Regions from separate parts of the Homo sapiens genome. Here all the other regions are linked to region 3. The links come from fine-mapping of genetic effects on gene expression. A gene starts in region 3. Each other region holds a variant in brackets. All regions are shown on one strand. Distances are from middle to middle.

What was found. PIP is the estimated chance that this variant, and not a neighbour inherited with it, causes the effect.
Region 1: its variant is the best candidate, but not a certain one, in a credible set for the expression of PID1 in whole blood (TOPMed, PIP 0.56).
Region 2: its variant is the best candidate, but not a certain one, in a credible set for the expression of PID1 in whole blood (INTERVAL, PIP 0.60).

What each region holds. Positions count from the first base shown.
Region 1 is chr2:229,409,136-229,419,322 of GRCh38, forward strand. DNER (delta/notch like EGF repeat containing) reads right to left here. Exons shown (of 13, transcript NM_139072.4): 9 at 8,973-9,095. LOC107985994 (a long non-coding RNA gene) reads right to left here and starts at 2,115. Exons shown (of 3, transcript XR_001739917.2): 1 at 1,076-2,115; 2 at 398-640. RefSeq lists a silencer at 4,181-4,399. The variant T/C (reference allele first, on the strand shown) is at 4,849.
Region 2 is chr2:229,302,140-229,312,326 of GRCh38, forward strand. No RefSeq gene overlaps it. Among named protein-coding and RNA genes, the nearest start is that of PID1, 36 kb to the left of the region's middle. The variant T/C (reference allele first, on the strand shown) is at 4,623.
Region 3 is chr2:229,266,263-229,276,449 of GRCh38, forward strand. PID1 (phosphotyrosine interaction domain containing 1) reads right to left here and starts at 5,025. Exons shown (of 3, transcript NM_001100818.2): 1 at 4,752-5,025. The coding sequence starts at 4,781.

The sequences.
Region 1 (10,187 bases), 140 kb after region 3:
CTCTTCTCCCAGGAGTCTCTTATTTTTACTTTCCTACTGATACACAAGTAGCCTGGGCTCAATTGAAAGAATAAAAAGCAGAAGAGTCTTTTCTGCTTTAAAATGTTTATTGCAACACAAAGACTCACATATTTACAAGTTCCCACTGGGCTGATCAATGGGAGCCAAGTGACAAAAAAGACTTTTGGTTGTAGTGGGAAATACGGCCACCACCAAAGTTCAGAGGTGCCTGAAGCCTAGAAAACATTTCCATTAGACCTGAAGTCAAAGAAATCAAATGATTGTCACTGAGTTTCTAGTAATACATTAACATCACTAACATATTAGCACCCAAACTACCACATTTTAAAAACCAGACTGAAAAGCAAATTCTAGGCCAAATATTTAAGCATCTTACCTTTTATTTAAAGTCTTCAACAAAATAAGACTTGATGAAAACACCCAAGATAATAAGCAATTTCAATCTTTTGGGTGTTTGGGGTTTTTGTTTGGATAGATGGCTCTTTTTTGGAGGGCGGGGAGACAATACTTTTTTCCCTTGTTAATTTTCTTTTTCAAATGGTGAGACATTTGGTCCCTTGAGCATCTATTGAGAGTTCTCTGGCAGCAAGACTGGACAAAAGCTAATCTTCACAGAAACCTGATTACGGACAAGCAAGATGGTGTTAAAAGTCCCTGGAGAGCACTTTGGTGACTCACATTTCTATATCGTAAACCTTGCTAATCCCTATATAAAATATATTTGTCATATTGCTCAGCTTGTCATTAGAACTGAACAACTCTGAGCTAAAAACTTTAAACACGGAGAATAGACAATCATGGACACTACTGATGTGCCAAGTTGTATCCACTCAAACCCTCCTCCTCTGGAGGTCCCTAGGCCCCCTCTTCCTGCCCTCCTCACCACTCCCATTCCCAGAAAACATCAAGTCTTGGGCATCCTGTTTCCTCTGAGGAGTCACCTTCTTTCACACCCTTCCCCCAACCTGATCTTCGCATATTTAACTAATCTCTCAATTCCCAATCCAAACACCCTCTCTCTGCAAAGCTGAACCTTGATTTTCTCAACACAGACCACATTCTTCCACCACTGTGCCTTGAGAGCATGCCGGGACTGTCATTGTCACGGAGTTCACTGTGCCAAATCATAACTTATCTGCTCTCCTGTCTGATTCTCCCACAAATCTCTGAAGTCCTGTAGAGCAGAGGCCGTATCATAATGCGTGGAAGAAATTATGGACCTAACACCGGAATCCTATCCTTTCAAGAGGGGCGACAGCCAGTGTACTTTGGCTGACACACAGGTGAGGCTGCCAGAGGAGAGATTCCAAATTCCAAATCTGCCTCAAAAACACCCTATTTTGTCAGAGAAAACCAGGTCCACACTTCAAACTAAGTCTGTGGAATGACACATGCATCACCCATTGGCAGAAGACACAGCACGTACTATTACAAAGCTGATGTTTAGTCTCAAGCAAAAATAAACTGTAATTCAGTCAAAACTAATAAAAATTCATACTTTTCGTATTAAGGGATGGAGAAGAAATGTTTCTAAAAAGACTTTGATTCCAACAGCATTCTTTACAGAAGTTAATTTTAGAATTGAAATAAGCTAGAATTCAAAAAGCAGTACACCAATTATAAGTCTTTGTTGTTGTAACAAATTTAGTTACAATTAATATTTGAAAAATGAAAATCAATATTTTATCTCCAAGAAACGAAGCCAGTAAAGAAGTGTTATTACACTTAATATTTACTTTAAGACATCGTCTCATTTCATCCAAACTTACTTCCTCTATGAAAACTTTTTCCAGTATTTCAATCTTTATAGATCTCAACATTTTCTAAACCATCTCAGAAATTACAATTGACATCTCAGCCTTAGCCTCATTATTCCTGTGTGTGTCACTCAGTCTGCTCGTCTGGTTAAATAACAGCCCAAAGAAGGAAGAAACTCTGACTTATCCTTTTTGTATTTATCACAGTACTTGAAAGGACTAGGTGCACAAAATAACCAGAAATTCTTGTTCCCTGGCTAAGTGGAATCTAGCAAAGGCAATAACTTTATCCAACAAAGAAGGAGTTCTCTTCCTTCCCATTAAAATTTCTGTAGCCTTTAAAAATAAATAAGTAGGTACAGGCCAGGCAGAGTAGCTCACGCCGGTAATCCCAGCACTTTGGGAGGCCAACGCGGGCAGATCACTTGAGGTCAGGAGTTCGAGACCAGCCTGGCCAACATGGTGAAACCCCGTCTCTACTAAAAATACAAAAATTAGCCGGGCATGGTGGCACACACCTGTAATCCCAGCTACTCAGGAGGCCGAGACAGGAGGATTGCTTGAACCAGGGAGACAGAAGTTGCAGTGAGCCAAGATAGCGCCATTGCACTCCAGCCTGGGTGACAGAGCAAGACTCTGTTTCAAAAAAAAAAGTAGGTACAATGTACAATGTAATTAAATCTATAATCCAGTGATCTCATTTCTGAGACTCTATCCCTAGAAAGAAATCTGGAAAGTAGGAAAACAATGTAAAGATATTAATTCCAGAAATATTTGTAATAGCCCCACATCACATGTAACAACAAAGCAATGGATAAGTATTCTCTCATGGGAACATTACAAAGCCATTTAAAATAAAACTAGTAAGACTTCCTAGCAATACATAAATCAAACATAATATCCTATTATGAGTGAGCAGAACAATATAAAATTGTAGGTATACTCAATTATTGAACAGTAAAAACATGGATACTAAAATCAGAATGGAAGCAACACAGATTATTATGGCTCATGTTATGTTGTAAAAACATGAGTAATTATGAATTTTCTCTTTTCTTCTAAATATTTATTATTGTTATATTATTTTCAAAATTAAAAATCGAATTTTTTTTCTAAATTGTATCACCAAAAATTTCAAATATATATATTGTTGATCATTTCATTGGATCTTCTAGAAATAAAAATCAATCACTATGGGGCTGTTCCTTAACCTTTTGACAATATGAGGTATGAACACTTAACAAAGTCTTAGACGTTCCGTCACAAACCAGGCTTGAACTAGTTTTGAAGGACACAGCAGTATTTTGGTTTGTCTGAAGACGGGTTACACAGAGGTCCTCCATGAATTTTGCTTTCTAACAATTCCATAATCTACAGTGAAGACTTACATTCCATGAAAATGTTTAAGTTGGTTTCCTTTACTTAATTCATGTGTTAAACAGTAGTTCTAACTCAAGTAAAGGTAGCCATTGAGCATTTGTTCTGTGCGAGCCACCATAGTAAGAGCTGTAGAGAATTTAAAAAGAAAAAGAGCCTATGTAGTCACTGTCTTTCCAGAGCTTATGATTTAGTATAGGGAAGAAGAAAGTCTGAAACCAAAAAGAATTTAATACAAGGCTAAACATAATTGTCATGGCAAATAGAAAGAAAATAGAGAGTTAAAGGAGGAAGAAGCCACATCTCTTTGGGGGTCAACATTTCAGACAGTGGATACAGCCATAGGAGTGGATGAAAGCAAAGAGGAGGGAGAGAGAAAGGGGCCTGGAGACCCACGTCATTCATGGCATCTGGGAGACCAAGACTTAGTGAGGGCAGAGAGGAGAACCCCGTCAGGAATGAAGTTGCAGAAGACACAGCAAGGCGACGTGCAAGAGGGACCCCAGGGCTCAGTGGGGCAAAGGGACAGGAACGCTGGCTGAGTCAGAAGTGGAAGGGGAGGCTTCATAGATTTCACCAAATGACTTCAATTACTTCACCATGAATTTTCCTGAAACCTCTTTTAGTGGAATGATGTGGACAAGGGCCAAGAGCCATGGTTGAAAAAGCAAAAGGGAAGAAAGGGACTTTAAGCACAGCAGGGACACAAAAAGTCAAAGAAGAGGTTTTTAAAATTATTATTTATATGGAATTTACTTAGAAGTCTAAGAACTTTTTTTTTCTTTAGCAGCCCAGTTTTTCTAGAAGGGCTTATTTGAAAAGAATTCCCTTCTCATTCCTAGCAATTCCTCTCTAAGAGTCTTACATTATTATTATAGACAATGGTTTCTGGGCCATTCTTCAGTTTTGGTTATCTGTCCATTCTTGCTAGGGTAATATATGAATGTAACAATAATTGCAGCATTATAGTGGGTTTTTCAACATCTGGCAGAAGTTCCCCCTCATTGCTTTTCTTTTTCTTTTTCTTCTTCTTTTTTTTTTTTTTTTTTTTTGACGGAGTCTCGCTCTGTCACCCAGGCTGGAATGCAATGGCACGATCTCAGCTCACTGCAATCTCCGCCTCCCGGGTTCAAGTGATTCTCCTGCCTCAGCCCCCTGAGTAGCTGGGACTACAGGCATGTGCCACAGCGCCTGGCTAATTTTTGTATTTTTAGTAGAGATGGGGTTTCACCATGTTAGCCAGGCTGGTCTCGAACTCCTGACCTCATTATCTGCCGGCCTCAGCCTCCCAAAGTGCTAGGATTACAGGTGTGAGCCACCGCCCCCGGCCTTTTTTCCTTTTTCAAAATGTTCTTAGCTATATATTTGGCTGACTCCCTATTGCACTCATTCTTTTTAGGAGGATAAATATATATACATAGAGAGGGTGTTATATATATAGTGTTATATATAGTTATATTATATATATCCTCCTAAAAATATAAAAACTATATATATAGTTTAAAAAATATCAATATTAAGCAGTAAAAATTACCACTTAAAAAGTATATATATAAAGTAAAAAGTTAAAGCTTAACTTTATCCCTAAAATACTACCTATCTAAGTTCTAACTCCAGGTAAGTACTAGTTAGGAATTTAAACCCATCCATCTGACAGTTTCCTGAATGTATACAGACATACGATATGTAAATA[T/C]ATATTGGCAAAAATATTTCCAAAAGGGGGAAAATGTCCATCCCCCCACGGAGAGAAAAGCACAGGATCATGTGGCCTCTCACTTCCCCTCACTCTTCCTCTGGGTGGAAGAGCATGATTAGATCCTCCTGTCTCTCCTTTAATTCCTTCTACCTACCCTCCCCATGTCCCCACCACTCTTAGTTTAGAAGTTCTACCATTTACTGCTACATTACTAGGGTTTACCTCCCTGTTTTCAGCAGCCTTATTTAAACCTAAACCTAAAAGTCTTTATAAATATACTAAAATTAAATAAACACTTTATCTGCCCATTGGATTTGTCACCCAGGCTGGAGTGCAGTGGTGTGATCTCAGCTCACTGCAACGTCTACCTCCCAGGTTCAAGCAGTTCCCGTGCCTCAGCCTCCTGAGTAGCTGAGATTACAGGCACCCGCCACCACACCTGGCTAATTTTCGTATTTTTAGTAGAGACGGGATTTCACTGTCTGGTCTTGAACTCCTGACTTCAGGTGATCTGCCCACTGCAGCTTCCCAAAGTGTTGGGATTACAGGTGCGAGCCACCACACCAAGCCAGGAGTGAAATGTTTAACACACTTGTATGCCTTTCAGTCTTTCCTATCCTCACCCCCTTCAACACATGGCTTTGTTTTAAATAATATGAAACCACTTTACTTGTTGAAATTTTTCCTTAAGAGCAAGAGTGGTGGACACAGCCTAGAGTGACCCCTAGGGAGTCACACCCTTGTGTAATTCCCTCCCTTTGAGTGTGAGCTTCCAACCAAGAGCAAATGGCAGTTAAGACATTTTGAAGATGCAATTAAGGTCCCTAATCAGTTGACTTTGAGTTCCTCCCAGGTGGGCCTGGCCTAACCAGGTGAGACCTTTAAGAGGGTCCAGGCTGGGTGCAGTGGCTCATGTCTGCAATCCCAGCACTTCGGGAGGCCAAGACAGGTGGATCACCTGAGGTCGGGAGTTCAAGACCAGCCTGACCAACATGGAGAAACTTTGTCTCTACTAAAAATCCAAAATCAGCTGGGCATGGTGGTGAATGCCTGTAATCCCAGCTACTCAGGAGGCTGAGGCAGGAGAATCGCTTGAACCCAGGAGGTGGAGGTTGGTGTGAGCCGAGATCACACCATTGCACTCCAGCCTGGGCAATGAGAGTGAAACTCCATCACAAAAAAAAAAAGTCCAGGCCTTCCCGGAAGTTCAAGACTGGAAGCAGTGGGGTCTCTGTCATAGTTGCTAGCTTTCAAAGAGCAAGCTGTCACAAATCCTACAGCCACGAGGATATAAGTTCTGCCAATAACCTAAGGGGACTTGGAAGCTGATTTCTCACTATTCAAGCCTCAGATGAGAGCTCAGTCAGTCAATACCTGGCTTTCACCCTTGTGAGCCCCTGAGCTGGGAATTGACTAAGCCACACCTGGACCTAGGAAACTGTTAGGTAATAAAAGCATGTTGTTTAAGCCAGTACCGGGTACTGATTTGTTATGCAGCAATAGATAGCTGATACAGAAGGCGGATCTACTTTTTTCAAGAGACTTTCCTTCACCATTATATTACCATTCACAATCACATAAATATCAAATATTTAGATTTATGCCTGCATTTAAAGGCATACATCTCTTCCTTCCATTCTCCATCTTCCCCTATCTGGATATCTTTGTTTTGATTTAGTTCCTATTTGGTGGCGATGCTTATTAAGGTACTTATCTTAGGGTATAGGGTGCTATATTTTCTGTATCCTTGAATGTATGGCAATGTCTTTCTTTTGCCCTCAAATATAAACAACAAACTCCTAGTCCTTTTCATTTAAAAGTCTGAAACGCTGCTCTGCTATTCTTTACCTCATGATAGAGAGGGGCAGTACAATGCCGATTTGATTCTCTTTCTTCTGTATGTAACCTGTGATCCCTTCGAAGAATCTTGTAAAAAATTCTCTTTATCCTTGCAGTTACAAATTTTACCAGGAAATCTCAAATTGTGTATCATCTCCTTCATTAATCCCATTACTGCCCTGTGAGCCCATTCTATTTGAAAATAAGACTTTCTTCACCTCACAGACACCTCCTTCTAGGAGTTAGTTAATTCTGCTTCTATTTCCACATGCTCCTTCTTCTGGAGCACCCATCGCTCAGGCAGAAGCAGATCTCTCAAATCTTTTCTCCATGTTTCCTGTCTTTTCACTCGTGGTTTCCACTTCCTCATATTTTGATTCTCTCATGCACTAGTTCCTCCTTTTTATTCAGATCCAAATTCAATTTTGAGTAGTGTACATTACTTTCTTCACTTCCTTTCTTGAGTGTTTAGAGCTGTTGTTGCAATTTTTGTTTTTATTTCCCAAAACTTTTCTCCCTCTCTGAGTTGCTGGCGTGGGCTAGTGTACTGGCCAGGCTAGTGGGTGGAAATCTTGGCAGAGACAGACAACATAACACATTCCCCTTCAGGGATGGATGGGCAGCCAATGGGGCCCTGTGTACTAAGGCATGAGGCAGAGAGAGGCCTCCCAGTTTGGTGTTCTCAAGGCCACAAAAAATGGGGGGGCCAGCTCAGCCTACTGTGCAATTTCCTTAGACAGCAGCCCGTAGCCATGAGATCAGTACACCCCTCTGCCTCCTAGGGTCAGACGCAGCACAATTACAGCATGCACTTCCTCTCTATAAGCTGAAGGATTTTTTTGGACTAATCTGTTCATTGAGTCATCAGTTCTCTCTGGAGCCCTCATCCCCTGTTCTTGTGGTTAAGCAAAGGCTCCCAGCACACATACCCTTTCTTGAGACCCCAAATCTTCAGATGACCCCATTCAGGGTCATCTACCTTATTGAGCCATCCCTAGCAGAGAGTCAGGAGGGATCAGAGATATTGAATGTCAATGTGAGCTGCCATCTTCCTAGAATCTTCATTTGTTCAGAGTAAGAAATCCATGAAAATATTTATACACATGGAAAGGAGCAAGGGGAAAGAAGGAGGTTGAAGATATGTAGAGAGAAAGGTAATAGATAGATAGACTCAGAACTGAGAAGCCTGAGAATGAAGCCAGCACATCTGCTGTTGTGTCCTGGTAGATGTTAGTGGAGTTTGGTTCTAACCGAACGTCATACTCCAACAGAAGCATCAGATCTGTGGAACACAAAGTCAAGACCTGGCCCAGCTTCAGCCCTCTTATCCAGGAGCTTAATCAAGTTTTCAGTGTAGCCTACAAGGCCATGAGACTTGCCAAAAAGGTTACTAAATAAAGGTAGGTTCATCCAAAGAGAAGCAACGGTGAGGGCAATGCAAGGTCTCCAGCCAGGTGGATGGCATCAAGCAAGCAGCAATAGGAGCAAGCGGTTGAATGAAATGGCTATAAATAGAGCCCACAAACGCATTCCAAAATCTAAACCCGGCCCCGTAGTTATGGCTTAGAGAAATGTGTGCAACAGCTGATAAATAGGTTCTCCTGGAACAGGGCCGTCTGAGGATATCTGGGCTCCAGGAAGCCTTGCCATCCACAAAACGTGGCCAGAGGCCAGTGAAGATGCTGGGAAAGGGCTTTAGGAACCACGCTGACCAGGCTTATAGGGGAAGAGCATTACTGTCCACCTCATAGGGTTCTCGGGGGGATTTAGTGAGCTATGCACATTAGGGGTTAGAACGGGGTCCACACATTGGAAACACTCTGTCAATGTCGCCTGTTTTTAATAAGCATTAACTTACTTGCTGATACATGGGACTCCGCCTGCCTCCTCCCCAAGAAAGCACAGCATTCTATCTCTGCATAAGAAGCTTTATAGGACGGCATCCTTCCTCTTCCACAGTTTTCACAGCCATGGTCTCTAACCTATGTCTGACAGTCCATCTTAATATTACTTTTTGTTTTCAGCTTTTTACACATTCAATAAAAAAGAAAGCGAGGATCCACAAAGAACAGGACAGGAAAGGGGGTTGTTTCTCAATCTATCAGGAAGAAACCAGAGACTTGCAAATTGGTCTCCTTGGACCGATTAATCATGCCAGCTTCAGCATTTGATTGTTATTCTGAACAATTCATGGTCCAATTAGAGGTTTATGCATTTACACTGAGAAATACATGACGTCATTTAGAGCCATTCTGGCACAGGAAGGCCAGGCGGCCTCTCACCTTTGTATTCTGCCAGGCACACACACTCATAGCCATTAACGAGGTCCCTGCAGGTGGCTGCATTCAGGCATGGAGCGGAGAGGCACTCATTATATTCCTCCTCACAGTAGAGGCCATGGTAACCTGAGGGACAGAGAGAAAGGCCCACTGTCAAATGCATCCCATTTACAACCCACGCGGGACCAGCCTGCAAGGAAGGCAGTTGGGGGTATTCATTAGAAAGTATGGTATAAACAGATGGGATTTCAGGAGCTAGATCTCTTGGGGTAAAGTTGAAAGGTGGATTTGGGGGAAGGCTATGAAGAAAGCGCCTGTTCTTATCACACTTTTTCATGATCCCAAGTATAAAAGAAGTGATTCCATTTATCCACTGACATTTTCATCATAGTGCATCCAACAGTGCTGGTGTTAGGGTGATCCAGTCACTGAGTGTGTCTGCTGTGGCCATCAGAGATAGTGAATGAGCAGGATTTACGGCAGGGGAGGAGCAAACAGCTCCCTTCAAGAGTGAGAACCTGGCTCGGTGTGGTGGCTCATGCCACCACAAAGTGCTGGTAATCCCAGCACTTTGGGATACCGAGGCAGGTTGATCACTTGAGCTCAGGAGTTCGAGACCAGCCTGGCCAACATGGTGAAACTCTGTCTCTACTAAAAATACAAAAAATTAGCCAGGCGTGGTGGCGGGCGCCTGTAATCCCAGCTACTCAGTAGGCTGAGGCAGGAGAATCACTTGAACCTGGGAGGCAGAGGTTGCAGTGAGCCAAGATTGTACCACTGCACTCCAGCCTGGGCGACAAGAGCAAAACTCCATCTCAAAAAAAAAACAAAAGAAAACAAAAAGTGTGAGAGCCACATTAGAAAAGTATATCTGTATTTCCTTTTCAAGTCAGAAAAGAAAATTAGCTCAAAATGCTTAACTGAAATTATTGATGAAATGTGAGGGTATTTTTGTTGTTATTGCTTGTTTAAAGATATGATTATATAAATTATAATATTTTAAATTGTACCTAAATGTTTAAATTACTAAAGAAATAATCATGTGAGTGAAGAGAAAATAAACCCACAATTTCTTGATAAAGTGGATTTTACCCTCCTATTTGCAAAACAGGTGTTTATTCTAAAGGACAAGAAGACAACATTCTTTGAGATTCATTCATGAGGGTTATGCTGTTTTCAACTTTTGAAAACATGTGTTACTGCCAATTTGCAGTGAAA
Region 2 (10,187 bases), 36 kb after region 3:
TTCTACTACCGAGACTCTTCAGAGTCACTTGTTTTCTCTTCTTTCTTCGTCTGGTTCTTTAGTCATCGATATTGCTTTGTTCCATGTTGCTTTATTTTTTTTTATTTGTTTAATATTGTGACCTTCCCACAGCTTTCCTATAATTTGTTTGTGCTTAGCTTAACCAGAGTACACTTCAGTTACTTGCATCAGGGTGCTCTAACTGATGTACGGGATTTAAGTGTTTTGTGAAACACTTGGGAGATCTTTTACTCTTACTTATGCTGGACTATATTGATAGACTACAGCAGGCAGTTAAACGTTAGGATGAATGTGCAGCTGGTAGAAGAGAAAGTGGAGCAGTGTCAGAAGGATAGGGTCACCTGTGCTAGATGCCTAAGAGTTGGGGATGTTGACTGATATCACCAAACCTACAAATGTTCTACAACTGTGGAGAAATTTACTGGGGTTTCCTTGTCCTGTAGGCACGTGCTAAATCACAAGAAAAATTAGAGATCAAAAATGAATGTTTAGTTTCTTTGGAATACAGGTGAACTCTAACCCAGCATGTGAACAACTCTGGCTTAAGACTGTGGAGACAAAGGGCTGAGGCAATCATGTAAGGCACTGATGTCCATGGATGTAAGATGTTTTCCCATGTGGCCTGTTCATGCCCCCACACCACAGACTGTCCCTGCAGCAATGGCCTAGGACTGTACTCATCAGCCACTGTGGACGAGGAAATTCCAAACAGCGGACCCTCATGCTCATTAAAGTGCTAAGAAGAAAGCTGACGGATTACAGGTGTGCAGACAGTAAACGCTCCGTAAACCAAAAATGCTAGTGCTACAAACAACTAACATTACTCTATACAAGGAATTTTGTCTCTTCATCAGATGAAAAGGATGAAGGTGGAATTGGAGGTTAGTTTCACTGAAAATAGATAACTTAATTGCCGCCATGACTCTTGCATAGATTGACTAGAAGAAATAAGTTTCCAAGTCCAAAATTTTTACTTCATTCTAAGTATGGTCCAAATGCGTCATATGCTGGCCATAACTCAACACATTTTAATTAATGGATAAGACCAATCAACAGCTGATATAGGTAGGATATTAAACTGCTGGGAAAGTCTTAGCAAAATGCCACAGGCTGTGTGGCTAAAACAACAGAAATATTTTCTCACAGTTTGGAAGCCCAAGATCAAGGTGTCAGCAAATTTGGTTTCTCCCGAGGCCTCTCTCCTTGGCTTAATGGATAGCCACCTTCTCATTCTGACCTCACACAGACTTTCCTCTGTGTGTATGCATCTCTGGTATCTCTCTGTATGATCTAATCTCCTCTTTTTAAAACAATGTTAATGTTTTTTAATTTTCAGTGTTAATATTTATTATTATGTGTTGAACCGATATATTATTACATTATTTCTCTATTTCTCTACCTATTATTTTTGACTTGCTTATCATAACATCATAAATTTTTAAAATTAATTTTTGGCATACAAAAAGCTGTAAATAATTAATATACAACTTGATAAATTTGGAGCTAAGTATACGTTTATCTTATGAACCCAACACCACAATGTATCCATAAACCTATCCATCATCTCCAAAAGTTTCCTCCTACCTCTTATTTATTTATTTATTTATTTTTGAGAATGATCTAGTTCTGTAATCCCAGCACTTTGGGAGGCTGAGGCGGGCCGATCACGTGAGGTCAGGAGTTGAAGATCAGCCTGGCCTATAGGGAGAAACCCCGTCTCTACTAAAAATACAAAAATTAGCCAGGCGTGGTGGTGGGCGTCTGTAATCCCAGCTACTTGGGAGGCCGAGGCAGGAAAATCACTTGAACCTGGGAGGCAGAGATTGCAGTGAGCTGAGATTGTACCACTACCTCTTATTTATTATTATCATTATTTTATGTGTGATAAGAACACTTAACATAAGATCTACCCCCTTAGCAAATTTTTAAGTATACAATACAGTATGATTAACTATAGGTATATTGCTGTACAATAGATCTTTAGAACATATTTGTCTTGTGTAATTGAAGTTCTGTACCCCTAGACTGTATCTCCCCCAACTCCAGCCCCTGGAAGCTATCATTCCATTCCCTGCTTCTATGAATTTGACTATTTTGGATTCATCATATTAGTGGTATCATATAATATTTGTCCTCCTGTGTCTGGCTTGCTTCACTGAGCATAACATCCTTCAGATTAATCTATGTTGTCTCAAGTGGCAGGATTTCCCTCTGTTTTAAGGCTAAAAAATATTCCATTGTGAATGTACCACATTTTCTTTATCCGTTCATCTCTTGATGAACATTTAGGTTGCTCCCGTGTCTTAGCTATTGTGATTCATGCTGCAATGCACATGGGAGGACAGATATCTCTTCAAGATCCTAATTTCAATTCTTTTAGATATATATCCAGAAGTGGGATCAACAGATCATACGGTAGTTCTATTTTTAGTTTTTGAGGAAGACTCACAGTAGCTGCACCAATTTACCTTCTCACTACAGTGTACACAGATTCCCTTTTCTCCAGACCCTCATCAACAACAAATAAGGAGATCAAATCAGTAATTTAAAAAAAAAAAAACCTTCCAACAAAGCAAAGCCCAGGACCAGATGGTTTTACAGGTGAATTCTACCAAACATTTAAGGAAGAATTAATACGAATCATCCCAAAACTCTTCCAAAAATAGAAGAAGGAACACTTCCAAACTTTTTCTATGAGGCCAGCATCACCCTGATACCAAAGCCAAAAATACCACAGGAAAAGAAAACCACAGGCCAAGATCCCCAATAAACAGGGATAAAAAAATCCTAAAGAAAACCTTAAAACTGAATTCAACAGCATATTTAATACAAATTATATGCCATGATCCAGTGGGATTTATCCCTGGGATGCAAGGATGATTCAACATATGCAAATCAATGAATGTGGTATACGACATAATAGAATGAAGGATAAAAATTACATTATTATCTCAGTAGATGCATAAAAATCATTCGACCAAATTTAACTCCCTTTTAAAAATACTCAACAAATTAGATATAGAAGGAATCTAGCTCAACACAATAAAGGTCATATATGAAGAGCTCATAACTAACATTACCCAATAGTGAAAAAGTGAAAGCTTTTCCTTTAAGATCAGGAAAAAGATAAAGAGACCTACATTTGCCACTTCTCTTCAACATGGTTCTAGAAGTCCTAGTCAGTTAGGACTTTCAGGGCCAATTAGGCAAGAAAAATACATAAAAGGCATTCAAATTGAAAAGGAAGAAGTAATTATCTCTGTTTGCAGACCACATGATCTTATATCTAGAAAACCCTAACAACTCTACAAAAAAGTTGTTAGAAGCCATACATAAATTCAGAAAATTTGCAGGATACAAAGTCAATATACAAAACTCAGTTGCATTTCTATACACTAACAATGAATTATCTGAAAAGAAAATATGTTTTAAATTCCATTTACAATAGCATCCAAAAAATAAAATACTTGGGAACAAACTTAACTAAGGATGTGCAAGACTTGCATACTGAAAAATATAAAACATTGATGAAATTAAGTAAAGTAGACACAAATATGTACATGGGAATACATCCATGTTCATGGATTGGAAGAATTCAAATTGTTGAAATGTACTTACCCAAAGCAGTCTACAGATGTAATGCAATTTCTATCAAAATCCCAATGGCATTTTGTACAGAAATAAAATAACATTATCCTAAAATTTATATGGAACCACGAAAAACCCAAAATAGCCAGAGCAATTTCAAACAAGCACAAAGCTGAAGGCATACACTTGCTGGTTTCAAAATAGATTTTAGAGCTACAGGGATTAAAATAGTATGGTACTGACATTAAAAAGACATATAGACCAATGGAACAGAATAGAGAATCCAGAAATAAACCCATGCATATATGATCAACTGATCTTTGACAAGGGTTCTAAGAATACACAATGGGAAAGTGTGGTCTCTTCAATGGGAAAACTAGGTATTTACACACAAAAGAAAAAAACTGGACCCCTCTCTTACACTACTCACAAAATTTAACTCAAAGTGGATTAAAGACTTAAACATAAGACCTGAAACTATAAGACTCCTAGAAGACAACATAGAGAAAAAGCTTCTGGATGTGTCCTTGGCAATGACTTCTTGAATATGACACCAAAAACACAGGCAATAAAAGCAAAAACAGAGAAGTGGGAGTACATCAAACTAAAAGGCCTCTGCATAGCAATAGAAATAATCAACAAAATTAAAAAGCAGCCTTCAGAATGGGAAAAAGTATTTCCAAGCCATATATCTGGTAAAAAGTTAATACTCAAAATATATGAGGAATTCCTGACCTAATTTTCTTACATAGACACCAGATTGGATTAGGACCCACCCTATCAGCCTACTTTTAACTCAATTACCCTTTAAAGGCTTTATTTCCAAATTCAGTCACAGTTTGAGGTACAGGGCATTAAGAACTCAAACACGAATTTGGAAGCATGCAATTAAGTCCATAACAGGTAGCAAGGAAAAATTATAAAATGAATGAATGTCACAATTTTCCTATGAAAGTGAATTGAATCCTAATGTAATTCCTCCTATTTTGATTGTTACTAGCTGTATTCATTTC[T/C]TGTAGCTTCCTTAGCAAAATGCCACAAACTGGTTGGCTTAGAACAACAGAAATCTATTTCCTCACAGCTCTAGAGGCCAGAAGCCCCAAATCAAGGTATCAGCAGTCCATACTTTCCCTGACAATGATAGGAAAGGATCTGTTCCAGGCCTGCCTCCAAGATTCTAGAAGGCTTAGGCATTCCTTGATTTCTGGATGGGCATTTTCTTCCTGTGTCTCTTAGAAGGCATTCCTCCTGTGTACATGTCTGTGTCCACATTTTCCCATTTTATAATGACATTAGAATTAGGGGCTTATCCTACTCCCATATGAACTCATCTTAAATAATTATATCTGCAATGACCCTATTTCCAAATAAGGTCCCATTCTGGGCGACCGGAAGTTAAACTTCATTATGTGAATATTGAAAAGGACAAAATTCAACCCATACACCATACAAAATGTTAAAAGAATTCAATGTCATAGACTAAAATCAAGAAGCCTGAACTCTAAACAGACTTTTACCCCTTCTCCCCCACTCACTCCTACCAAAAACAACCAACAACAACAACAACAAAAAAAAAAAAAAAAAAAACAAGAAAAAGAAGAAATGAAGAAGAAATAGTCTGAACTATCATTCATGGATCAATCAGGTCCGAATCCCTTAGCCAAAATTAGTTTACTATGTTTGAAGTTTACATAATTGCATAATTCATGAATTTCCTAAGTCATCTCCTTGCTGGAAACATTAATGTGGTATCTGATTATACTAAACAGGTAAATGGTTCACATGAGAAATATGAGAAATTCTGTGGCTCTTGTGATCTATCACTGACCAACGAGTTGGTTTCTCCTGAAGTCCAGAGAATCTTTATTCATTATAGAAATCAAGTCAAATAAAAACCAATTTTTTCAGTGAACTTAGAGCTCTGCATAGGTAAATTCTTCTCTGTCTTGGGCTAAGCACACTAAAACATATTCTTTTTTTTTTTTTTTTTTTTTTTTTTTTTTTTTGAGACAGAGTCTTGCTCTGCTGCCCAGGCTGGAATGCAGTGGCTCGATCTTGGCTCAACTGCAAGCTCCGCCTCCAGGGTTCACGCCATTCTCCTGCCTCAGCCTCCCGAGTAGCTGGGACTACAGGCGCCTGCCACCACGCCCGGCTAATTTTTTGTATTTTTTTAGCAGAGACGGGGTTTCACCGTGTTAGCCAGGATGGTCTCGATCTCCTGACCTTGTGATCCGCCTACTTCGGCCTCCCAAAGTGCTGGGATTACAGGCGTGAGACACCGCACCTGGCCAAAATATATTCTTTAAAAGCATTGTATTTAAGCTTTACAATCTTTATTTTGAACATCTGAAAGGCAGAAAGAAAAGGTGTTTGAATTGGTTCCCATTTGGATAAAGTAGCTTAAGCAAAATAACAACCATCTAATTTTTAATAGCTGTCAATGGCTCTTCAGGGTGGCTCTTGAGGATTGTATGTAACTTGGCTTCATAGTTATTTTTAGTCACTGTGACCCCATTTCCCCCTAGATTTTACCCTCTAGAATCAGACCTAATTCAATGCCTAAAATACCTGTGCTAAGAAACACAGAAAACAAAGAAGCAAAATTTTAATCATCCTAATAAAAGATGAAAGAATTCGGCTGGGCGTGGTGGCTCATGCCTGTAATCCCAGCACTTTGGGAGGCCAAGGTGGGCGGATCACGAGGTCAGGAGATCGAGACCATCCTGGCTAACATGGTGAAACCCCTTCTCTACTTCAAAAAAAAAAAAATACAAAAAATTAGCCGGGCGTGGTGGTGGGTGCCTGTAGTCCCAGCTACTCGGGAGGCTGAGGAAGGAGAATGGTGTGAAGCCAGGAGGCGGAGCTTGCAGTGAGCCAAGATGCGCCACTACACTCCAGCCTCGCAACAGAGAGAGACTCCGTCTCAAAAAAAAAAAAAAAAAGATGAAAGAATTCAAAAATATACATTCTCTGACTCAGCAAAATAAATAGAGTAGATAATCAGAAATGACGCCCTACAAGATGGAAATCCAAACAGACACGGGGGAGAAACTTTCAAGGCCATCTGGCCTGGCTTGGATTATAATTCACCCAAGACATGTTAAGATTAAGGGAATAAAGAAGACAATATTAATCATCGGAAATGAAACAAAGAGCCTATATTATCTATTTACTTATAAAATTTTTGTAAAGGGTGTAAAACATCAACTTTGGAAGTTACTTTCTATATATTTAACTTTGACTTGCTATTTTAAAAGGTGTATCTGTAGATTCATTATATTAGTAAATACTCACACATAGGAAAGTGGAAATCTTTTTTTTTTTTTTTTTTTTTTTTTTTTGAGAAAGCATCTCACTCTGTCACCCAGGCTCAGCTCACTGCAACCTCCACCTCCTGGGTTCAAGCGGTTCTCCTGCTCCAGCCTCCTGAGTAGCTGGGATTATAGGCATGTGCCACCGTGCCCGGCTAATATTTGTATTTTTAGTGGAGACAGGGTTTTGCCATGTTGTCCAGGCTGGTCTCCAACTCCTAACCTCAGGTGATCTGCCTGCCTCGGCCTCCCAAAGTGTTGGGATTACAGGATTGAGCCATCGCGCCCGGCCAGGAAACTGGAATTCTGACTGATGTTTAAACTTTGGGCAGTGCCTCCAAATTACATTGATAGAGAAAGAAAGCACCCAGATTAAATGTCACATATAGGATAGTTTTGTGACAAACTTCTAAATTCTACAAACAAATGTACACAGACACAAAAAATCACATATTGACAAATGAGTGTGATGGTGATGGTTTATATGTCACTTGGACTTTGTTACTTTTCTGTTAAGTCAGAAAGGGCTTCCTAGAAGGTAGAGCAGAAATAGGGACAAGGTGGCATGAGTAAGTGAGCCCTCTGGCCCTTCAACATTCATCAGCTTAAACCAAATTCAGATAATTCTCACTACTGTTTGCCTCTGTACACATATGCACACAGCGTATGTGATCCTTAAGTGTGATGGTGGGAAGGGCTGAATCAAACATACCTAAGACATCTTTTCATGAGATTTTACCCGTTAACTATTGGAAAAACAAGGATCCACTTTTCTGTGTGTGTGTGTGTGTGTGTGTGTATGTGTGTGTGTCTGTGTGGTGTGTGTGTGTGTGTGTGTGTGTGTGTGTGTGGTTTTTTGTTGTTGTTGTTGTTGTTGCTGTGATACTTCAACATGTCTTTCCTCAGATATATAAAGTTTGTGCGTTATGGTTAAATGCTGAAATTGCTCTTTCACTAACAAATCCTCCTAGAAATTTTATATTATTGACTTGATATGACAAATATCAAGCCATTTCTTCTTCTTATGTCAACATAAACTTTTGAAAGTTTATAGAGTTATTGTTATTGGTACAGATTTTTCATCTTCATTGCAGCATCATAGCACACAAGTGCCTCTATTTGATTCTTCTGCTAAATGTGCCTTTACTAAAATTAATTTCAATAAATTGATGCTTTGAGAACCTCTGATCAATGACTGTTTTAAGTATATAGCAATGAAATCAGAAGATTAAACAAGGTGATTCTTGATCAACTTGATGAGGGCAAGAGGAAGCGTAGCAAATCCAGCAAACAAATATGTGCATGGAAAAGACCCCAGGTGAGTCTTTAAGCCATAGAAATTACACTTAATTTTTGTGATTTTTCTTACATAGATACTTGTCTGTGGTACCCAGCCCTGTAGAGAAGGGTTTTGCTAAAGTCTTTGTTACAGGGGGAGGGGAAAAAAGAAAGGAATTCCATCAAGCAATAAAATTTGCAGAACTTAAAAATATTTTTTACATTTACCCCAAGGATTATGAAAGCAGCAGAATTGTGAATGCCAATTGGGGAAGTGACTAGACAATTGGCTTTCTTCCCCCACCAAAAAGAGAAATAACCGATTATTCATACATGCAGTCAGATCAGATTATCTGCCTTGCTTTCTTTTCTTTTCTTTTTTTTTTTTTTTTTTTTTTTTTTTTTTTTTTTTTTTTTGAGACAGAGTCTCTCTCTGTCATGCAGTGGCACCATCTTCCGCCTCCTGGGTTCAAGTGATTCTTCTGCCTCAGCCTCCCAAGTAGCTGGGATTACAGGAATGTGCCACCATGCCCAGCTAATATTTGTATTTTTAGTAGAGATGAGGTTTCACCTTGTTGGCCAGGCTGGTCTTGAACTCCTAACCTCAGGTGATCCATCCACCTTGGTCTCCCAAAGTGCTGAGATTACAGGTGTGAGCCATCATGCCCAGCCTGCCTTCCCTTCTAATTTTTCTGTGGTTCTGGCTCCTCCAGGACCCAGCATAGAGTTCACCAATCACACTGACTAGGGTTAGAGGTCACTGGGTAAAGCATAGTATGGAGGTTGCATTACAAACTAATAGTGGGAATGAAATTGAGCTAGGCCAGGGTCTTTTGCACGGTAAGCCTATACACCCAGAACAATCAACACATGGAGTCTTGGTTGACTGCACTATCAGATAAATAAAGAAGGGTTGGCCAGAAGTCAACAGGTCACAGCCATAAAAGTTCTTGGGTCTTTTCTCCTACCGCTTAAGCCATCACAGATCGATGGGATGCTGTACTCAAATCTCTTCCTGACACATGTGTTGATGGGGCCATGAAGTGTGGCTGCCCTGCCTTCACCACAGTGGTCATCAGTGACTACACATTTATAGACCAAAGACTCAATAAATAGATGTTGAATAAAGAAAGCAGAATTTCAACTGAACAGTGGATAACGGGCTAAAAGGGAAACAGTCCTCAAAGTTAGTAACATTTTCAATAAAAAGGCAAAATAACACCTGTACTGACTATAAAATATGACACAGATTCATAAAGCCACACTAAGAAGTATGTTATGTTTTTTTTTTCTTCTTATCAGAACTTTTGAGCCCAGGGAAGAAGGGAGATATACCTTCTTCTCATTACTCCTTAGCCATACCATCCCTGCTATATCTTACCTCATTCTCAACACTGTTTCGGGTTCTGAGAGGCAGAGGGAGGAAAAGATGAACTTCAAGAAGCAGAAAGTAAAAAAGAAAGTGGAAAGAAATGTGGAAAGGACAATTCTACCAGCCAGTGTTCAAGGAAGCAAAACTTAAAGTGTTTAAAAGGCTTAAAGAATGTGCTTAAAGCATTTAAAGAAAAAGAATCACTCCCTTTTTTTCTCCTTATTTTATTTCATTTTTTGAGACAGAGTCTAGATCTGTCACCCAGGCTGGAGTGGAGTGGCATGATCTCGGCTCACTGCAACCTCCACTTGCCAGGTTCAAGTGATTCTCATGCCTCAGCCTCCTGAGTAGGTGGGATTACAGGCACACGCCACCACGCCTGGCTATTTTTCTTGTATTTTTGGTAAAGACAGGGTTTTGCCATGTTGGCGAGGCTGATCTGGAACTCCTGTTGCATATATAAACAACAGCAAGTGTGCACGCTCACACCCTCCCCTCATCTAACCCGGTTTCCCTTTCTGGCTACCACTCTTATTATTCTCCTCATTCCTCTCCCATTATTCCAATGTGCAAGTGATCCCCACCAGCTCCATTTCTCCAAACCTCTTACCTCTGTG
Region 3 (10,187 bases):
TCTCCCCATTTTTTTTTTGTCTAAACTTGGAATGAATGTGTACACAATCCACCCTAATCACCGGCTTTCAAGGTCTCTAGTTTGGATAAATGCTATGTGCTTCAGCTGAAAAGCTCTTCAATGGCACTTGTGAATTTTAACTTCAATAGGAGACAGCAGCTTATGTGCCACCAAAGATTTGAGCCACCAAAAACAGAGTAGCCTTTGGTCAACCCACTGCTTCAGCAAGAAATAGGACAGCAGCCTCTCTGAGCCCACAAAACAGTCATTGCTCTAACTGTATTTATTAATAACAACAGCACCAACATGTACATTGCACTGTGCCTGTCTTATCCTTCTGCACTATGGTGAAGTGCTTAAGAAGTAAGGATTGGAACCAAACTGTCTGGTTCAAACTCCAGCTCAGTTCATTTCTAGCTGCTCAACGCTGGCCAAATCACTTCGACTCTCTGGCCTTCAGTTTCTCTCTAAAATGCGGATAAAAGTGGTTACAGGATGCAAATGAGCCAGATAGTTAAAATAAAGCTCCTCGGCACAGTGCCACACACAGTGCCTGCACCACAAAAGCAGGTTACTAGTATCTTCCCATTCTTAATCCTTGCTCCTTTTGTCAATTTGGTCAGCCTGGAAAAGTATCAGATTTGCCGGTTTTCACCCTGCCTGATGGGCCAGGGCTAATGGTCTCCAGTTGACGTTTTAGAGGGTTCTCCAGTCTCACTTCTCAGGGGAAAAGTGAAAGTGGCATCATCATAGAGAAGAAAAATCTAGAACGATCCACACTCCAAGTCAAGACAACATCTACCAGATAGGACAAGGCAGAGAAAGGGTGAGATAATCCTCAGAGGAGGACTTTGGCTCCTAAAATCCCCAAATAGTATTTAGCTGGAAACTTCAACCACTTCATCAACCAAAAGTTTCAGAAGAAACCAAAAGAAAGCTTTTTCAGGATCTGGGGTCCTCCCTACTCTTCACTGTGTTTCTCCCTCTTGTGGAAGTGCTAGTACACAGACATTGGCCACAACGAGGATGAAAAAGGAAGTAATGGATGGAACAGAAAAAATTGCCCAGGCTGCAAAACTCAAATCCAGCTTTGTGAATAAAAAGCTGTTTTTTCTGAATCTGCCATGGAGAAATGGTAATCTCAGTGAAGACAGCTAGATGATTATATTGGAACCTTTATAGAATGCCTCATGAGAAGATGGTTACATGTAAACTTCACAATTAGAATCTGCTAGAACTCATACGCCTATCACATTCCACTCTATCCTAGTAATAACTACACCAAAGACCTTTAAGGATGTGTTGACCTCCTTCGTTTCTAAGTCAGTCTTGATTCATCTTTCTCCTCCTATCAAGGCCTCCAGAAAATGCATCTGGTAGCTCAGTGAAGACATTTGCTCTGAGAAAATACTTGTTCCTATGGATGGGACACAGTCTTGCATGGATGGGTTTGTTACTTCTGAGGGATCCACCCAGTACAATCATCAAGTCAATCCAGAAACTCATACAAATTTTAAAATTTCAAGGCCAGAGGTAATCTCATCTCTATTTCATAAAAACCAGTAGGGTTTTTATTTGTTCAGAAAAGTCTCCTTTACTTTTCTGAAAGGAGTCTGTTTCAAATCTGCTTCTTTAAAAATGTATAACACTCCTCAATACCTCCAAGAAAAAAAAAAAGTCTGCTGTGCAGACGGGAAGGTGAAAAGAGAAGAATTCATATTTATTCACTGTAAAAAGTTGGGGTGGTAAATTAAATCTTCACATCCCTTTTGATCCTATTATATTTTTAATGGCAGAAGCTCCCAGCGAGGGCTCGAGTGGGATGCAATAGAAGTTTTAACATTCAAGGGAGCAGATGAACTTGCCTCGGTTTGTGTGACTGAATGAGAAATTACCCAGCGCAGCTCTGCTCAGGGCAATAGGTCCCTTTGCCTGTGCTGGATTTGGGTCAAACAGCTAAACCTCAAATCAGAAAATATCAGCATCATTTTGTGGGGACACAGAAGTGTGGGTAACAATAATGATAATCAAACCTGATCAAAGATGCCATTTCCTGAGCAACGGAGCCAGTTGCTACACTCAAAAGTCCATTATTTAGAGGGTGACTGTTCTACGCAAAGATCTATCACACTCCCCTGGGACACAGACTTCTCAAACCAGCTTCATCGAATATGAACTATATCATCAAGAAAGGGTCTGGTTATTTTCTTCCATCCCCTCTTTTGATTCTAGGTATTGATAAAATAAATTGACTCCTTAGTCCTATTAGGAAGTTCTGGGAATGTTTCCTTGACGAATTTTCTTCACTCTGGCTCATCTAAATTAGAATGTTTGTATTAAAGATAAATGAGAAAAAAATTAATGAGGTCGAATGAGAAGGTTTATAAAGATTTGTGAAAGGCACATGGAGCTCAGACATCATTAAAGAGCAGAACTCATTCTCAAGTTTCCTATCCAGCATGATATCCACTGCTATCTCTGTGGCCACAGAGCCTGGGAGTGGCAAAGTGGCTTCTCACTGAGGAATCGGACAGGCATGTTTCTATATCACGGTGAAAGGAAAAGAAAAGGAAAAAACCCCAGACAGCAAACAGAGATTGTGACAAAGATAACCACAAGGAATGTAAATAAAATATGATAAGCAGCTCACTCACCATCTCATCCTCAACAGCTCTCTCAGAGGCAAAAGTAAAAACATATAAATTATGTGTTTTCAAGGAGAGTCAAGCAATACTCTTTGGGAAGAAGCCACGGATATAAAAAAATTTTTCCGCATTTGTCTCACTTCTCTAATCTCAAGGCTTGAGATGTATGTACTTTCAAAAGAGACTCATCGAAATTTGGGCAGCATGAAGTTGAGCCCCCTGTTGGTAAGGACCTTCCAACAGTGACTCGGTCTTATTGGTGATAAGCCCTGTTTATATGAGCTTTCAAAAGCCTAAAAACAGGTTCTTTCAACATGACACCTTGAAATAAAATAAACGCATTGCAAACACCAACTGCAATAAACCAGGCTCACGCCAAAATGCACACGTGCACATTTCACAAAATAAGGGGGAGACATTTCTAGTGAGGAGCAATCTCTATGGGAAGGCAAGCGAGAGCGCCCACCTGCCAAGGGTCACATGCTCCAGAGCGCACAGGATTCCCTAAGTGAAACAGGCCGGTAGGAAGAACTTGAATAGTCAAAAATCTACAAACTCTTCAGAGGTACAGATCATCAGGCCATAAAAGCCACCTCAAGGAATTTTGGTCACATCTCTCTAAGGACTTCCAAAAGCTACCCTCTGCACTTGAACAGGAAACCTGCCAGCTCCCCTCAATCATTCTGCTCCTTTGGAATAGAAGTTACGCCTTTAACCGAAGGAGAACTTCAAATGCGCCACTGGTATCTGGTGCCACTGCCAAAATATATTTACATCACCTTCTATCAGTCATTCAGAGCCCAGTGCTGATATTCTCTTAGTAAGACAAGGAGGGGGTTAGGAGGTTGGTCATCCACCTCCTCATCTGCAAGGCTAAATGCAGGTTTTCTTGTTTATTCTACTTGAGACCCTGGGGAACTGGTCTGGTGTCTCAGGCTCTGATAAATTGAACACACTCCCCGCAAATCATGGCCCAGGGAGCTTTGGAAAGGAGCTGTGGGGCATCTGTTTCTGCTAAATGCAATGCCCTCTGCGGGTTGTTCCTCTGTATGAGGACTCCTAGACAAAGGTTAGCCTCTCCCTGCATCTGAGAAACTGTGCTTGGGGCTGTAAATGTTCATTGAGAAGCCTCCAACCTAGCCAGGGCCTGGCCTCATTGTCCTAAGTCTTCAGATGCACTCAGCCTCCAATGGTGCTGTATTTTACCAGTTAAACACGTCTTCAAAGTTTACTACGAAACAATGTGGCTCCTAGCTTGCCAAAAGTTTAACTGCAGGATTCAGTGGATTTTATCTGGCAGAGTAGCTGCCGTGACTCTTGACAATATTTGCCAGCAAAAGGCAGTCCTCAAACCTTGCAACCAGGGCAATCCCAAGGCCCAACGTGTCACTGAAGGAGTTCTTCTGGGAAAGGTCCCTCTTTCTCTTCAATCGCCTCCCGCAAATCCCCAGCTTCCAGAATCCAATTCAAGGCAGTCTGGCATTTCAGGAGACAGCAGTAAAAAACTTTTGATGGGATAACCCAGGACATAAATATTCCTGGCTGAACCTACTTTTGATTCTTAAATATCTGAAGGAGCTTGGGTTTAAGGAAGATAAAGGGAGAGAACCAATGAATAGGGAAAAATAAAATAAGTAGCATACCATGACCAAGCCAAACCAAGCTTGATATTTCCACATTATATTGGCAAATGGATGCTTTCACATATCACTTGTTCTGTCTTTCCTGGTGACCACAAAAAAAAAAAAAAAAAAAAAAAAATCTGGCTTCAAAAATCCTAACCCCAGACCACTGCATTGTGTCAGTGGAATGCAATCTAAATTGCCAGTCAGAAAGTCCAACCTTATATGTACCAACCAACACGCACACAAGCACCTCCAAGCCAAAAGTTGTAACGCCTGAACCCGTGCGTTTATCAATTTCATCATCCCCATACCCCTGCCGGGTTCCTGGCGCTGGGTAAACCGACAGCATCATGTTGCCATCGATGCGTCTTACAAGATGGTTTTGGGCAAATCCCCTAAAGTAGGCAGAAGCAAAAACTAGGTTCCTCTGCCCGGGCACCTCCTCCTCCAGGCTGGCCCCCGGCTCCCGGGTGCCCCTTACCTGCAGGCGCTCCGTGGCCGGCTGCCACATCTTCCAGCCCTGGGTTTTGGCAGAGGAGACGCTGGCGAGACTGTCGATCGCGCCGGGGGGCGAGGGGCTGGGGTCCCGCTTTACATCTGGGGTCGGTGTCCGCGGGATGTGCGTCCTGGCGCTGGCCACCGCCGCCGGGTGGGCGTAGGGGGCTGCGAGCAGGAGGAGGCGCGGCGCTCAGCTGCCGGCAACTTGTGGGCACGGCCGCGCGCCGGCTGTCCTGGCGCAGCTGCGAGAGGACTGCGCAGCTCCGCCCGGGCCCGGCGAGCGCGCGGCGGCGGCGGGGGCGGCCGCTCCCTCCTCCCCCGCCGCCGCCGCCCGGACCTGCGCGCTCTGAGCATGCCCGGGGCGGGCGCCCAGGGGCCGCGCGGGGCGGGAGTGCAGCGCGGCCGACTCTAAATCCTAGTGAGGGGTGAATGGGGAGGCTAGAACAGCCGGCCCTTCCCTGCAGGAAGCCCCCATTGGGTTGGGGTCTGGGAAAAGGGACAGACTGGCTGAGGGGGGAAGGGCCTGGAGCCGGGGGTGGTGGGGGCAGCGGGGATGTCGGGGGTGGCGGGGGTGGGGGAAATTCCTAAAATAAGGAAACCGTAGCCCCGGGGGTCCCGGGTTTCCATATAACAGGCATCTCTGAAGTGCCTGTGCTGTGCCTGGCGCTGTGCTAGGGAGACACTTCCATTCATTCTTCCCACTCCAGTTAACTGAGCATCTATTAGGCTCCAGCCCCTATGCTGGGTTCTGAGGATGCAGCGACGCAGAATAGAAGACAAGAGAATGTTCCTTCTCTCTGGAGCTTACCTTCTGCTTTGGAGAGAGAGTCGTGACTGAGCAAACACATCAACAAGCCGGTGCTATATCGGGTGGTGATAAAACAGGGCAGATGTGGGAAGAAGGGGAGAGGAGAGCTTCTTAGACAAGGGCCCTGGGGAATGCCTGGAGTAAGACCTGAGAGATGAGAGGGATTGGCCACGAAGAGGCCATGCTTCATGATGGGGAGAGGACTCGACTCCTAACCTATACAGGGGTGAGGAGGGCCATGCAGACTCCCGAATCACTAACTCATCCTGAGATCTGCCAGGTGCAGCAGGAGGCTCTCAGAACCCAAGGGAAAGCCGCTCTGGGCTCGCAGGCCTGGAGGCTCCCCGGCTAGTGCCGGCCACCATGAGATGACTTCCTGTCCTAAACAGGCCAGCCCTTCCCATTCTCTTGACAACTCGGCAAAATAACTATTAATATTTTCACCATGTGGATCAAACAAATGAGGCTTATAAGGTTTAGGTCACTTGTCCAGGTCACACAGCCAGTGAGTGGCTTAGAGAGTGCACAGTCAGATGACTTCAGGGCAGGAGATGTGGCCCTGCGCCTCTAACTGACCATGGAAACCCAGTGGAAAGAGCATCCGTCTAGGGCTGGGGGTTAAAGGCACTTGGCAAGTCAGGGATACTAAGCTGATTCTCGAGCTGATGAAGAGTGGGAGAGGAGAACATGGTGGGAAGAACTCAGGACATAGAATGACCAAAGAGAGGAGCAGAGAGAACACAATGTTTGTGGGGAGCCCTAGGCTCCTACAAGGCAGGGTCCTGAGAGCAGAGGGGTGTGAAAGAGAGGCATTTCATACTGAGACAGCTGCACAGCTTGGGCCGTGAGCTACTCATGCAATGTCAAAATCCACACTCCATGTCTGGAAGGAGGATCTGTCCATTTTCCTTGTTCTGCATGACTACAATGATTTCCAGATATGGAACCACTCCAGAATCTAACCCTCAGCTCATCGGACCCTCGCAGCAACTCTCCGTGGGACAGAAGCCCCTATCTCCCAAGGCTTGGGGAGCACAGGGTTCACAGAGTCACACTGTGGGGAGTTACAATGGCGATTCAGATCCAGGATTCCAGGCAGATCCTTCTGGACCCTGCGGTTGCTATGTTGGTGCCACCAGCCTTGGCAAGCCCAGGACCCTCAGTGCCTCTAGGAGCCTCTGGCAAAGCCACAGAGCTGCCTCTGAAGAGCTTGTCTCTGTCTCCCTGGATATCCACAGGACCCTCCCACTCCTGCCTGATAACCACCTGAACCTTCTCAGCTCCTTCTCCAGTTCCTGCTACTTGTTCTGAACTTATTAATAAATCTCTTTTCATGAGGTGTTTGCCTGTCAGCCCGCACAGACATGTGCCTCACATGCTTGGTGATATGGTCTCTGTTTGCTTTTCCGGTAACTCCTCCTGCACACCTCCACACCTACAAAATTCCTTATGACCTTCCCAGCCCCCAGTTCTCTTTTATCAAATCCCAAAGTAGAAAGAAATGCAATTCATTACAAAAATCTAGAAAATCCAGACATGCATATAAACCCCACCCCCCAACCCCCCCAGGAAGCTAAAACAGGAATATTCAGTTGCCAGGGATGTCTTCAGACTTAAGCTCTGAAACCATCCTTGCTTGCAGATGCTTCCGTGGAAAAGTGATTTTGTTTTAAATAGCAGTGGAATGAGTTAACGGCCTAAATTCAAATCGCATTAGAGCGTTAAATCCTGTCTTCTCACCTCCAAACGTAATTAATTGTTATGACTCAGTAATACAGCTTTTAGTACGGAGTATGGTGCTATTTAAAGAGAAAAAGCTTTGGCTCTGTAAAGATTGCTTTCAGTTACCGTTCCCACTTTGCAAACAGATTTGGTAAAGTAAAGAATGTATTTAAACTCAAATGGCACTCCTGTTTCAATTACCTTTATGCCACGAATCAGGAAGCTAGGGGAGGGGGTGGAGGAGGGGCAATTGCAGGCTTGTGGGAGGTGACAAAAGGATGGGACAACCTCCCACTCATAGATTTTGCTCCCAAGTCTTCCCATTCAGGAGGAGCCTGCAATGAAGGGTGAATGAAATAGAGACATCTGCTGGCTAGAGATGAGACCTGCATGCCAATGTCTCCCAGCTCTGTTCTGTGACATTGGAACCTCATCCTTCCTGGTGAATCTGAAAATGCTGCCTTACGATGTAAACAGGTTTGTTCTGAGCAAGAAACCACCCTTAAAATGAGCAGAAGGTGTTTTGGTGCAATGAGTAGAAATATTAGGCATGTAAATGTGTGCCTAATTTCATGTACTTAGTCTCCTGCAATTACCGAAACAGGTCTAATCTTGTCAATAAATACCATTTGAAGGCAAATGACAGAAATCAAAAAAGCTTGACAAGGCACAGATGCGTTATTCACACATTTGGTTCAGAAAAATAATTACAGCATCCCTAGAAATTGTGTTAAGCCAGATTTGATCTAGTTCATGGTTCTGAGCCCTAGCATAAGCAACCTCAATGTCCAAGTCAGAGTAATGGTGAATGAAAGTATGGTCCAGCATATCAAAGAAATATTAAAATATTATGCAGCATTTAAAAGGATAATTATAAAGTTGTGTTGCAGCTGAAAATGATACAATTATGGTTTTTAAAGTAGGATAAAATGTATATAATTTGAATATATGTATAAAATATTTATCAATCTCAGTAAATGTTGGAAAGGAGCTAGGACAAGCAGAAGACTCAGGTTGAATCCCAGCCTTCGAACTGTCTACCTAGGTATCAGCTTTTCACAAGTCATTTGCCTTGCTGAACCTCAGATTTCTCTTCTATAAAATGGGTGATAATATTACTTAATACTTAGGATTTTGGGGAGGAGTGAATGAATTAATATGTGCAGCATGCCTGACACATGGTAGGTGTGTGGGAAACATTCGTTTTCATCCCCATTATGTTTCTTTCTCTTTTTATTATTGGAATGATCCAATTCTCACAAAGCGGCCCATGCTTCTTGTGGTTACACTATTTCCATTTGGAATATTTGTGGGTTTCAATTATTTGCTTTAGATTCTCAAATAAAAATGACAAAGGATATTCAAGCTCACTTACGATTCTTTTTTCTTTTTTGAGATGGGATCTCACGCTATCGCCCAGGCTGGAGTGCAGTGGCGCGATCTCGGCTCACTGCAACCTCAACCTCCCAGACTCAAAGCAATCCTTCCACCTCAGCCTCCTGAATAGCTGGGACTACAGGTTTGTGCCACCACACCCAGCTAATTAAAAAAAAAATTTATGGAGATAGAGTATTGCTGTGTTTCCCAGGCTCCCTGGGCTAAAGTAATTCACTTGCCTTGGCCTCCCAGAACGCTAGGATTACAGGCATGAGCCACCATACCTGGCCCACTTACAATTCTAACTTAAGCAGATGACAGCAAAATTTATTATGGTTGTGTATTTAGCAGAATTATCATTAAAAAGCCCTTGTTATGGTATCACTAACCTTATTTCAAAATCACCAAAACAGCTGTATATAAATGAGCAATATAAAAAAGTCTGAAAATTCATTCGACCATTTAAACCTCCCAGTAGTGACAGAACCACTGGCTTTCGTCCCTACAGAGTGATAGGAATGTATTGGGATGTTAAGATGACGCTTAACAGGGTAGGACTGGCTCATTCGTGTGTTGTGACTCTCCTACTCTTGACTCCTCATATCCTCACAAACCTTAGACACCTGATAGATTATTTTCAGAAATGCCCACAAAAATCTCCCCTCCCCAAGGAAGTCATGCCCATTTGCACTGTAACTTGCCTGCTTCTCTCATCATGAGATGCAATCTGTCCACATTCCTTGAATCTGTGCTGGACTTGTGGCATACTTGACCAATAAAATGCAGCAGATGTGACACTGTGGAACTTCTGAGCTTGGGCCACAAAACACTTTGCAGCTTCTGCTCTCACCCTTTTGGAACATAAGTCATCCTATGAAGGAGCCTGGACTAGACTCCTCAAGATGAGAACAACACAGAGGGAGGTCAGACCATGAGTTAGCACCCACAGCCAGATATGTGAGTAAGGTCATCTCATAACACCCAGCTCAAGCCACTACACGACAGCAGCCACATGGGTGATCCCATGTGGGTCCCACCAGTGGAAGAACCACCCAGCTGAGACCTGCCAACTGCTGACCCACAGAATCATGAGTACATAACAAGGTTGGGTTTTATCCCTTAAGTTTTGGGTGGTTTGTTAGGTAATAATAGAAAACTGATAGAGAAAACATCACTAATAAGTGTCTGTCTTTCCCGCTAAACACACCCTTCTCAACATTTCCTAACAACCAATTGATCAGGGTTAGCAGTAAAATGAAGCCTAATAGTCTAACATAAAAACTTATTTCCTCTTTTGGTTTTATTTCTGCTCTCACAATTCCCTCATACACACCTCCATCCTAGTCTCAGATTGTGTGGGCCCTGTATCCAAGTCCCATCTGTTAAATTTTCTAGTAAGTCCCTCTGAAAAGAAGATGGGAATTGGGCTGGGCGCCAGCCATATAATGATTAAGATGAATTTATTTTCTGGCACAATTTGCAATAAACATGAACATATCTGCTCTTTTACAG